Linked DNA regions of Homo sapiens: region 2 is reported to be linked to region 1. Evidence: microRNA targets listed by miRTarBase, many of them from high-throughput screens and not tested one by one. Region 1 holds a microRNA gene; the other region holds the end of a gene's coding sequence.
What was found. Region 1 holds the annotated microRNA hsa-miR-5192 (AGGAGAGUGGAUUCCAGGUGGU, at 1,016-1,037, opposite strand). A microRNA usually pairs through its seed, bases 2 to 8, with sites in the 3' UTR of a target mRNA and lowers its output. Matches are read on the target gene's strand: a 7mer-m8 pairs with bases 2 to 8, a 7mer-A1 pairs with bases 2 to 7 and ends in A, and an 8mer does both.

Region 1 (3,240 bases):
GACACATTTTCTTAAAAGAGAATATGCTCTTGGTTACAGCGAAGGGGACACCAGAAAGTGAGGTACTACAACCTCAGACTGCAGGACTCCTTGGCTTATCCATTTGGAGTCTTGTAGGGTAGCAGCTTGGAGAGAACTGCCTGACTCGCTCTTCCAAAAGCAGGCACAAAGAGTGCAGAAAGTTCTGCAGAGTAGACATGTGTAGAGATTTTTAAATAATGTTGTACTAGGCCAGGCACAGTGGCTTACACCTGTAATCCCAGTGCTTTGGGAGGTGGAAGTGAGAGGATCACTCGAGGCCAGCCTGGGCAACAGAGAGAGATCCTGTCTCTACAAGAATAAAAAACATATAAAAATAATGTTGGATTAAAGTGCATGGTCTAACACTTTGGGGAAGGGAAAAAAAATAGAGAAATGAGATAAAGGTATCAAGGACACTCCTTATAATAAAACAAATTAACCACTGCACACCTAGTGCCCACCCATTAGCTGAGTGAGGGCTTGTCCATATGCCATGGGCGCAATTGGATACACAGTCAAGTGGTGACTGAGGTGTCTTCATTTCACAGAGAAGTAAACTGGTTCACAGGATCAGAAAGTTGTCTGATGTTCCCAGAAAAAGTAGAGGGAGAGGGCAGGAACTGAGAACCCAGATGGGCCGCCCCCAGCCCAGAGCTGCATGGAGGGAAATGGGCATCCCCATCCTCGCTGAGCACGTCCAAGCTGATCCTTGATCCAGGCAGGCCACCCCTAAAACCCCATCCCGGAGGCCTCTAGACACCAGCACCCCTTAACAACAACTACTATCCTCCCCACCCATACCTCTTCTCAGCCTGGTTTCTCCTGGCTTAAAACATCCCTTATCTTGCTTCTCTCCATCCTTACCCCCATCCTTGAAGGCCCAGGTTCAAATCCTGTCTCCTCTTCCATGAGGACAGCCTTGATTCCCCCAGTCCATCGATTTCATCCTCTTCTCCTGGCACTCAGGATCCCCCAAAAGGAGTACCAAGCCCTCACCACCTGGAATCCACTCTCCTGGCTACCATGCTTCCCAGGAGAAATGGTTCCAGGTGAGCCAGGAGGCTGGAACTAAGCAGCCTGTCCCTCAGGTGGCAAATGACAGCCAAGGGCTGGCAGGCCCCGCCCACGGCACACAGCCACTAAATGCCAGCGCTCCTCCTCTCACACTGAGCATCCAGTTAAATTGGGCTCCCTCTGGGATGCTGCCTCTTCTCCACAGTCAGACATCATCCTCCTCCCAGAGGAAAACACTTCTAGTGATGTGTGACCCTGGGTGGCAACTTCAGAGCAAGGCGGCAAAGAAGCAAACCAGCTCCCTGCTCCATCTCGGATTCCTGTCCCGCCTCTTCTCCCTTTCTCAAAGGCTGGTTAAATCCTAACACCTTACTGACAAGTGTTTCAGGACTGTTGTTTTCAAGTTGTTGCTTTTTAAGTATCAAAATAAACCATATACATTTTAAAATACGTATCCTCAAAAAAAAGTAACACTTTGGCCTTTTATCCAAATGTTCTATAAAAGGGGAGGCATCATTCAGGCCTTCGACCAAGACTTGCTTCCGTATTTAAAGAAGTGCAATAGTAACATAGCTTTCTCCGGCCACCCGCCAAGAAAAGTTTTTGTCGCCACAGTAAAAAGAGAACATGTTTGCTCAATATGTGGGCACTATTGAACTGCTTAAAAACTGGGCCTCTTTTACCAAGCAATTTGAGTCACCTCAGTTTTAAACGAGTCTCTGCACGTTCCCTTCATATACCATAGGTGATCACATATGTGGAGGGACGAGGGACCACAGCAATCCCAGTGCCACGGGCTTCCAATCTCGCCGGTCTGCCTGTCACTCTCCCTGGGGGCGTCCAATCTTCTCCCCCAGCCTCCGCTATCTCTAAATTGATGGCTGCCCACTCTGTGGTCCATTGTGACCTTCTTCTCTCTCCCTCTCTAGATGGTGCCCATGGGCCCCTAGTCGTGAGTGGGGTAGAGATGAAAATAAAGAATCATCACCCTGAAGCCGCTGGTGGCTACCTGAAGCTTCATGATACCATTCTCTGTATCTGCACTTGTTTGAAAATTTCCATTATAAAGAGTTAAAAAAAGACGATCCATCAGAACTTTGAAGAATAAAAGTTTTTTAAAAAAGAGAAACATTCAGTTAAAAATAGGAGTATTCATGAGAGATATTTTAAGTTCATTTGAAGGAAATAATTCCTTATGTGGTAAAGGAAAAGAACAAAAATATAATGGCTGCATCTCAAGAATAAAGTTACATAAAAGTTCCTTATAAACAAGCTTCAAAGACAACCATAAAATAATAAAGGTAAAAATATATCTCACTAGTTCCAAATGTTGACTATTTAGAAAGGATAGCATTTGTAACACTTCGACCCTTTCATTATTAGACAAATATATTTGAATCTGAAAATATCATTCGGCTTCCCAGTGAACAATCTAGAGCCAGACCTGGAGGGTTAAAAACACACATGCACATAAAACTCACCACAATTGTGTTATTCCCTGATCAAGACTCAAAAAAGAAGTACTTTGGAGAACCAGTTGGATGTTAAGTGCTTCTCAAAGAAAATAAACAATTAGAAAAATTTCTACCAGGCACTTTGGGAGGCCAAGGCAGGTGGATCACCTAAGGTTGGGAGTTCGAGACCAGCCTGACCAGCACGGAGAAACCCTGTCTCTACTAGAAATACAAAATTAGCCAGGCATGGTGGTGCATGCCTGTAATCCCAGCTACTCAGGAGACTGAGGCAGGAGAATTGCTTGAACCCAGGAGAAAGAGGTTGCAGTGAGCCAAGGTCATGCCATTGCGCTCCGGCCTGGGCAACAAGAGGGAAATTCTGTCTCAAAAAAAATTCTGAAGCACAAATAAACTGCAGCAAGTTTATGGTCCATAGAAATATCTTCCCAGAGCATTAACACTTTCATATTCATGAGTTCAATGGATTCCAATAATAAACATGTGAAATTGGCTGTGCAGGTTTCATGCGATTCTGCAGGGAGGTGGGAAACAGGAGCTAAGTGGGTTGCCATAGCTACAAAGACATTTGATGTCAGCTCTGGGACCAAAACCTACTTCAAGTTCTCTACATCAGCCAGTCCCTGACCCCCAACTCCCAGGATCTCCACTCCCTGTGACAGCTCTTGCTGCTTCTGGGGTCTTGCACCAATAGCAATCTCCACTGTTTCCCCCATCTTCAGCCTCTCCCTCT
Region 2 (3,000 bases), not on the chromosome of region 1:
AGCCACATGAAAACTTTCCTTAATCTTGCCTGGCAATCTCAGGCACAGACCCAGGTGTGTCCTCACAGCACCCAGTCAAAGGAAAGATCCTCATGAAATGATCCAAAACCTTGAATGCTGGCAGATACCTGTGACAAACTGACACCCAAGCCCATGGATGGCACACACACACAACACAGGGAGCTGGAGCCTCAGTTTCACGCTGATTCAAAGAGCCACACAGGACTCAAAAAAGGAAAAGTCGAGACTGCCCTTAACCTACACAGTAGGGAGATAATCTCCAGAGAAGATTTAGATGCATGGAAAAGGCAAAAGATATATAGCCAATGCTTTGTCTTCCAAAGAGATCTTTAGACTACAGGCAATATCTGCAGATAAAGAAAAATTACAATATGGATGGGCCTGGAAACTGCTTTTTTTTTTCTAGTTCTTTGTCTAGGCCTTCAATATTTAAACAAAATGCAAAACTGAACGTTACCTCAAAATGAAACAGTGTGTGTACTGGCTGTTAGAAGTTGATGGCGGTCTACTGTTTGATATTCACTGCCATCTTCCTCTGCCCCACTCTACCTCAACTCGGGACCGCCTCACCTAATGGTGGGCTTTGCCGCTTTATGCCATGTAGAGAAGACACTGGGTAACCACAGCAAATCAACACGAGATCCTGTACTGCCTACTCTGGGAATATAAATGGCTCTGAGGCCAGGGGATAAAACCAAAAGATCTAGGAGTAGCTGAATGCCAAGAGACGAGTTAGAACAAGTTTTAGTTCCAAAGATGATTAGACTGGAAAGAAAACTGATCCAAGGAGGGTCATTTCTGTGTAGATCTAAAGACAAAAGCATGATTTAGATTTTCAGGAAGACAGATTTATCAAAGAGCAGGCTTGCTTCTGACATGGAGAAAGCTTACACACTGCTAAGAAAGTGAGCTAAACACTCTGGACAGAATACTAACTGAACTCGAGGGATCATTTATCAGCATATAAAAGAACTGACTAATAGTTCTCCCAACTGGACCCTCAATTCTCTTTATGAACTTGCAATTACACAAACTGCCAGCCCATACTGTCTTTGACTACAGTAATTTATTCACTGAATGATGTCTAATTACCGTGAAGAACACAGTAATTACAGAGAGTATTTAGGACCTCAGGTGAAGAGGAAAAGGGAAGGAAAGGAGGAAAGAGATGTTACATTCCCAAAGCCACAGGCACAAGAAAAGAACCACATCATCGGGAGGCAGCAATGCAGGGAAGGTGCCATCAGCAAGAGGCTGGGCCACCGTGGACATTATCCCCACTCCTTAAAGGGCAAAGGAAAAAACCACTGCTGAAAATATAACCTAATATTCCTCATGTTCAAATGAAGACACCCATATAAGCTGAAATTAATTCACTGGGAAGAAAAACTGAACAGATAAATCCTTACTGTCTATTTTGTGCATTTAAATAGCATGTGAACGAAGCTTCCTAAAAGCTTTCCGGTATTCTGGCCAGAAAGTCATCCTGGAAACAAATGTTCTTCCCTTCCCATTAAGTAGAAAGACTCATGACCTACATCAGAACACATACCTGGCACCAAGGCAACTGACTCCCACAGACTATTTTCTGGGGAGGGCATGGAATGTATTTAAAGGCCTCTATCTCAAATCGGTCATTATGTAATTAGGATAATCAAAACATCTTAATAGCTTCAATGTTCCTATAGAAACAGTGCTTTGGAGTGACCAGTGTTAGCTGCTAGTATCAAACATGCCTATAATAGTGTAGCAACAGTACTTTTCCTCCCACTTATCTACCAAACAAACCAATACCATCACACACAATAAAGAACATCCCATAAGCTGCTTGGCCTCAGTAAGGCTGGCCATAGCAAGCCCATGGCCCATGACAGAACACCAAGAAGGATGAGGAAGGAGTTGATGGGGAAAGAACAGACAGAAGGTGTTCTAAAAATAGAAGACTTTAGCTATGCACATGGTAATATAAGCCAAAGGGGAGTGTTGAAGTTGTAATACACACTAGGCTTGGGTATAATACCACAGTAGATGGAAGTCTTTAAAAAAAGATTCCTTCCTAAACCTTTTGTGCTAATTCCCTGCCTGGAATTAACACACACAGCAGGTTAATCTTATAATCACAAGGACACATACAACCACAGGCAGACACACACACACACGGCCACATCCTTAACCCAGGAAGTCTTAAGTCCTCAATTAGGATTTCCAGCAAAATACTTGTTCTATAGCTTTCTGGACTGTTCCCCAGGTAGGTTATCATGTAATATAATCCACACTCTCTCTACGTGGGAACTGAAGGACACCTTCAAATGCACTCAAGACCCATAAAATAATAAAACATACTAGCTGCTCCATTTTCATTTCACCACTTTGAAATCTTGGAACCACTGATGTGATATCCCACAGAGAGGGCAAGACTTCACTGTGAAGTCACCAAAGGAACTCCTGCCCTTCTAGGTGCCACTTGAGTAATAACTCCCAACTCACTGGTCCTCTAAACCTGCAGCAGGGAGATGGTGTGCTAGGTAGCTACATGGGCAGGAGAAGAAATGGAAACAAATTCCCGGAGGATGTTTTTGGCCATCTCGATGTTGTTCTGGGCAATGACCAAAGCTTTCTGGATGTCCTGGTAGGAGTACCCCTGACTCATGAGGTTCTCGATCTCACTGGAGAGCTGAGGTGAGGCGGTGGCAGCAGAGGCGGCAGGACCACTACCTTGCTGACAGCTGCCAGCTTTCCGTTCAGAGTTGATTCTCCGCGGGAATGGTTTTGGAGGCCTCTCGGGAACTTGGGAACCTTCAGTGACATCTAGAAGAAATAGGAAAGAAAATATTTGCAAATCTGGGGAAATCCTCATTTAACAACAGCAATAAAAATGTGCTAATATCAAGATATTACTGACTTCCTGTAAACTGGGTACATGTGCTCTTCAGTCACAAGGCTGGGTTTTACAGGTTCAAGGGTTTTAAGATATAGCCT

Region 2: miRTarBase lists CBL as a target of hsa-miR-5192. The part of its 3' UTR that is shown has no 7-base or 8-base seed match.

The regions. Positions count from the first base shown.
Region 1 is chr2:62,203,679-62,206,918 of GRCh38, reverse strand. It overlaps MIR5192 (microRNA 5192), which reads right to left and starts at 1,093; the gene lies at 1,002-1,093. The region is part of intron 1 of B3GNT2 (UDP-GlcNAc:betaGal beta-1,3-N-acetylglucosaminyltransferase 2); the gene reads right to left.
Region 2 is chr11:119,299,324-119,302,323 of GRCh38, reverse strand. CBL (Cbl proto-oncogene) reads right to left here. Exons shown (of 16, transcript NM_005188.4): 16 at 1-2,829. The coding sequence ends at 2,543. Among named protein-coding and RNA genes, the nearest start is that of MIR6756, 12 kb to the left of the region's middle.